Linked DNA regions of Homo sapiens: region 2 is linked to region 1. Evidence: fine-mapped expression QTL. A gene starts in region 1. The other region holds a variant in brackets. All regions are shown on one strand. Distances are between the middles of the regions.

Evidence for each region. PIP is the estimated chance that this variant, and not a neighbour inherited with it, causes the effect.
Region 2: its variant is the best candidate, but not a certain one, in a credible set for the expression of LINC01765 in whole blood (INTERVAL, PIP 0.79).

What each region holds. Positions count from the first base shown.
Region 1 is chr1:115,098,409-115,101,330 of GRCh38, forward strand. LINC01765 (long intergenic non-protein coding RNA 1765) reads left to right here and starts at 1,239. Exons shown (of 2, transcript XR_947722.3): 1 at 1,239-1,343. RefSeq lists an enhancer at 1,290-1,349.
Region 2 is chr1:114,944,764-114,947,685 of GRCh38, forward strand. It overlaps SYCP1 (synaptonemal complex protein 1), which reads left to right. Exons shown (of 32, transcript NM_003176.4): 25 at 109-219; 26 at 1,526-1,618; 27 at 2,483-2,557. Among named protein-coding and RNA genes, the nearest start is that of TSHB, 84 kb to the right of the region's middle. The variant C/T (reference allele first, on the strand shown) is at 1,437.

The sequences.
Region 1 (2,922 bases):
AAGCTTCTTTTCTTTTTCCTTTTCTTCCTTCCTTTCTTAATGGGGAAGATTTAAATGTGTTCATAGTCCTGGGGGAAGGTGCCTGGGGAGAGAGAGGTTGAAGGAGAAGAAAAGCGAGAGCAGTGTTTCTGCAGAAATAGAATGGGACTGAGAACCAGACACTGATGGGGGCTTGCATTTGGAAACAAGGAAAATAAGCAAGGGTGGAGTTGTAGTACCATTTTGTATTATATGTCTCATAACCCTAGTATCTGAACTCTCTGTGATCAGACTTTGCTGCCTGTGGACTTTTCTACGTATTGATTTTAGTGTCTTGTTCCTTGTGTATTATGTGATTTTTTTAAAGCTGTAAACTGCTTACTTTCCTTGGAAATTTGTGGGAATTCTTTGAGTCCTTAGTTGAGATTTTATTCCTCCAGAGAGGATTTTCTTTGCCTTCTGCAAATCATCTCAAGGCAGTACCATAGTGTTAATTCAGACAACAAATCCATTTGAAGGCTGGCTTGTGGTGACAAGGTCTCAGGGGAGATTTTCCCCACTCCAACACCAAGTCCAAAACGTATACATTTCTTTGTCGTCTTTTGCATGATGGGTTTATTTCTTGTCTACTCTTCCCTTGAGGGTGTATCCTTTGGGAGGAGGTACCAGGTTTGGGTGAGGTCTCCTAATACACTGTCTATATTAATGGCATTTTAGGCTTTACTTCACAAACCCCAAGCGGTTGCAGCTGTCGAAACCGAAACCCAGGGCAAAAGGTGGCTTTGGTGCCTGCTTACTTCGAGTTCTTGCTTTCACTTCATTTTGGCCTTTGTAGATTCTCTTCCTTTTGTGCTAGCTCAACGATGTGGTTTTATTTTTACATTCTTACATATTTTATCCAGGGTCTTAGTTTCAGTCGAGAAGGTAGTTCAGGATATCAAATCTGCCCTACTGCTAGAAAAGGAAGCCCGGTGTGCCTGCTATCGTAACTTTGGTTTTGATAAGCAAACACGAGCAGTTTTTGACTGCTGGGTTTACAGCATAGGAACCCTGTTGCTATGCAGCTGTTGTTGGAAAATAGTCTGTGGGCTCAGAGTTTCTAAACCAACCGTCTATTGGATGCCCAGAGAAGGAAGGAAAGCGAGGGCCCTGGCTTGCTGATTACAAACCATCTCCATGGTCACAGGTTGCTGGGTGCTCCTTTTACGATGTTTTCCCAGCAGCATGCAGGCAGCAGTAGCTTCCTTTGATCATTTTTCAGTTTCTGTTATTTGCTAGTGAGAGAAAGTTTATACCTGCTTGTGGGGACATGAGTGAAGAAAGAGAGGGGACTTTGAAACAAGAGAAGAGAGCAAACTCAAAAGGTAACTGTTTGTTTTCATAGGACCCTATGGGAACAACTAGCCCATTTTTGTTTTCACTCGTGCAGCCAGTTGGGGGAAGGAGAGGAACATAACTCATCCAGGTCTGAGGTCTAAGTCTGAATATTTATTGTGCCTCACAGATGATCCCCATTTGAATCATCCAAATTAGGAAAGAGTTTAAAAAATTACTGAGTAATAGTCTGGCAGAATTTTAATGTGACTTCTCTTGTTGACTTTAAGGTTTAACAGAGGCCCCAAAGGCTGAGAGCAAAATTGTAGGTACTTAAGTACCTTTACATTCTAAAGCAAGGTGCAAGATTGTCTATATTAGTCAGACATTATATATTCATATAAGAGATTTATTATAAGGAGTTGGCTCATGTGATTATGGAGGCTGACAGTCCTGAGGTCTGCAGTCAGCAAGCTGGAGACCCAGGAGAGCTAATAGTGGGGTTCTAGTCTGAATGCTGTCAGACTCCAGACCCAAGGAGAGCTGATGTTTCAGTTCAAGTCCAAAAACAGGAAAAGATCTATGTCCCAGGTCAAGCACTCAGGAAGGAGTTCCTTTTTACTTGCAAAAGGGTCAACCCTTTTGTCCTATTCAGGCCTTCAGCTGAGCAGATGAGAGCTGCCCTTTAAGAATGGTAATCTATTTTACTTGGTCTACCAATTTACACCCTCACAGGCATACCCAGAATAATGTTTGACCAAATATTTGGGGCCCCCCTGGCCTAGTCAAGTTGACATGTAAAATTAACCATCACAGAGAACAAAAGAAATGTAAAACAGGTAGACTAAATTGAAAACATACAATGAGATGGTAAATTTATACCTAAATATATCAGTAACTTCTGTTGAAAATAATCAAGAAAAAGAGAGATTGCACAAATAACCAATGTCAGGAAAAAAAAAAGATTAATAACTCCAGATCTGCAGAGATTTAGATAATAATAGGATAATATAAACAACTGCAAATAAATTTGAAAGGTAGGTAAAATGGACTGATTCCTTTGAAAAGTAACATCAGAATGCACTCAATGAAAATTAGAAGTTTGAATAGCCTTGTAAGCATTAAAAAATTGTATATGATCTTTTCACAAAAACAAAAAAGTCCAGCCCAGATTGTCCTTCAGTGGTGTGTTCTGCCAAACGTTTAGGTATGAAGTAATTCCAATCTTATGCAAACTCTACCAGAGAGTAGAAAAAGAGGGAGCATTTAAAAAATACTAAAATTATGAGACTTGTAGCAAGATCTCGAAACCTAAACCTGAAAAAGACAGGACAGTAATGAAAAGGAAAATTATAGGTCAATTTCACTTATGAACATAGATGCAAAAATCTTCAGCAAAATAATAGTCAACAAAATAGTAATATCTCACTTATTTGTGGGATCTAAAAATGAAAACAATTGAACTCATGGACCTATAGAGTAGGAGGATAGTTACCAGAGGCTGGGAAAGGGAGTGGGGAGTTGGAGGGGAAGGTAGGAATAGTTAATAAGTACAAAAAAATATAGAAAGAATGAAGAAGACCTACTATTTGATAGTACAATAGGGTGACTATAGTCAATAATAACTTA
Region 2 (2,922 bases), 150 kb before region 1:
CCTGGTGTTTGAGGTTTGCTTTTATTTAAGTAGAACATATACTTTTTACACTTGTTTGTTTTTTGTGCATTTATTTTAAGAAACTTTTTTTTTTTGCTTATTTGATAGGTTGAGAAAGCAAAAGTAATAGCTGATGAAGCAGTAAAATTACAGAAAGAAATTGATAAGCGATGTCAACATAAAATAGCTGAAATGGTAGCACTTATGGAAAAACATAAGGTAATTTTTTTCTTCTTATATAATGAAAATTATTAATTGGAGCCATATTTCTGTTAAATAATGGTGAAATCAAGATAGTATTCTTATTTGTCAGAGAAGATTATTGTCTATGCAACAGTGACTGTCTATAGCTAGAATACCCTTGATGCCCATTTCTTCAAGTTCAGATCTTAACCATACAAAGTTGAGCCTGTGTGTCACATCCTTGAGGAAATCTCTCTTTGTTATCTGTGATGAATGGAAGTAATCACTCTTTTTCTGGATTCTGCTAATAGTCTCTTATAGCACTTTCTACCTTATATATTTTTAAGTACATAACCAGGATAAGTATCTCATTGATATCTAACATATAATAGGCTAAATCAATTTTTATCAAAGGAATAAATAGATGAAATACTTAGTGTTTGATGTGTTTTTGTCTTATATTTTTAATTGTTGTTTTAGAGTATCCATTTGTTAAGGAATTAAGCCTCATTCCCCTTAAGATTTGGAGAAGAGGTAGGGTATACCTACCTATTCAATTAAAAAAAAAAGCTGCTGGAATACGAGATTATTATGAGGGAAGTGGTGAGGATTTAAAAAATAATTTAAATAACATTGTGAACTCATAGATTTGAACACATTTGGTATGTTTCAATCCAGTGCAGCATCTGTCCTTATTGATAACTCACATTTTCCCACCTTTGGCTAGCAGGAGCCTCTTTAAGCTGTGTGGCAAGTCCTTTTGACTTAACTGTAATTTTCTCTGATAACTTTCTTTGAGTTATGACAAAATGTTTAAGGCTTCTTTTTTTGATGTAATAATTTTTTTATTATACTTTAAGTTCTAGGGTACATGTGCACAACATGCAGGTTTGTCACATATGTATACATGTGCCATGTTGGTGTGCTGCACCCATTAACTCATCATTTACATTAGGTATATCTCCTAATGCTAGTTTAAGGCTTGTATTTCCTGTCCCAGATTTGAAATCAGTCAGTTTTGTAGAAGCCCTGGTGTTTCTGGCAAATTTTTAAATGTTAAAATTCAATGTTTCCAAAGATAAAAGAATTATCTTTTGCTCTTTGGTTATTTCCAAGACTGTTGTGTGTTTCACTATTGAGGTTGTTTGAATGAAAAAATATAATTGAAACATTAAAAATATATACCCATATATATTACTGAATTTATAAACATAAGTTTCTGCAAAATTAAATACTAAATAATTAATTAAATA[C/T]TAAATTAAATATTAAAATATGTTAGGATACCAATCTTATAATCTATTCAGTTTTAATATATCTAAAATGTCTTCTTTGTTTAATATAGCACCAATATGATAAGATCATTGAAGAAAGAGACTCAGAATTAGGACTTTATAAGAGCAAAGAACAAGAACAGTCATCACTGAGAGCATCTTTGGTGAGATACAGAAAAAATTGCAGTAACGGCCAGTTTTCATAATGTCAGCAGTGACTGGTGGTAAAGAATAATATTAAGTAAAACTAATTTTTGAGCTATAGAATCAGAGTCTTAACTCTGAAAGGGATCTTATAGATCTTCTAGTTACATGTTTTTTTCTAATTTAGTTTTTGAAATAGTGGAACAAACTATTTTTTCAAGTGAAATTTTATAAACTCCAGTAAACAAATAAGTTTGGACCTCTGATTGAAATTGGGAGAGGAGGGTGGGATAAACTGGGAGAGAACGAGGAGAGATATACTTTGTGTTGAAGTTTTCTTTAAAGAAAACTACAAAAAACTTGATTTTGTTTTGTTTTGTTTTGTTTTTGTTTTTTGAGTTGGAGTCTTTCTGTGTCCCCCAGGCTGGAGTGCACTGGCATGATCTTGGCTCACTGCAACCTCCACCTCCCGGGTTCAAGCAGTTCTCTGGCCTCAGCCTCCTGAGTAGCTGGGACTACAGGTGTGCATCACCACACCCGGCTAATTTTTGTATTAATATTTTTAGTAGAGACGGGGTTTCACCATGTTGGCCAGGCTTTCCTCAAACTCCTGACCTCGAGTGATATGCCTGCCTCTGCCTCCCAGGGAAGTGCTGGGATTACAGGCATGAGCCACTGCACCCAGCCCAAAAACTTGTTTAAATGAGGTTTTTAGCTATGTTAAGCTAGCAGCCTTTATATCAGTTGACTTTAAAAGTATCTACATTTTATGAGTGAATTTATTTCTCTACAATATTAAATTTACTCAGAGCACTAGTTTATATTTTCATTGTCTTGAGAAATACATGGAAGCTCTTCTAAACTTCATGTTTCTTTTTCTTTAGGAGATTGAACTATCCAATCTCAAAGCTGAACTTTTGTCTGTTAAGAAGCAACTTGAAATAGAAAGAGAAGAGAAGGTAGGTTTTTTGGCATTATAGATAAAATGATTACAAGGTTTAGGGGCAACTTTGCATTTTTAGAATTATGTCATATTATAAAATAATTTGATAAATTTTAATAACGGGATGAGAAAATAATTTTCCCCCAGAAGCTTTTTTCTAGAAACATTTAGAATATTTCCTAATGTAAATGCAAAACACACGTAAATATAAGTGTACTTTTAAGAAAAGAACACTTTTGTGGCTCATGTCTGTAATCCCAGCACTTTGGGAGGCCGAGGCGGGCGGATCATGAGGTCAGGAGATCGAGACCATCCTGGCTAACACGGTGAAACCCTGTCTCTACTAAAAATACAAAAAATTAGCCGGGTGCGGTGGCGGGC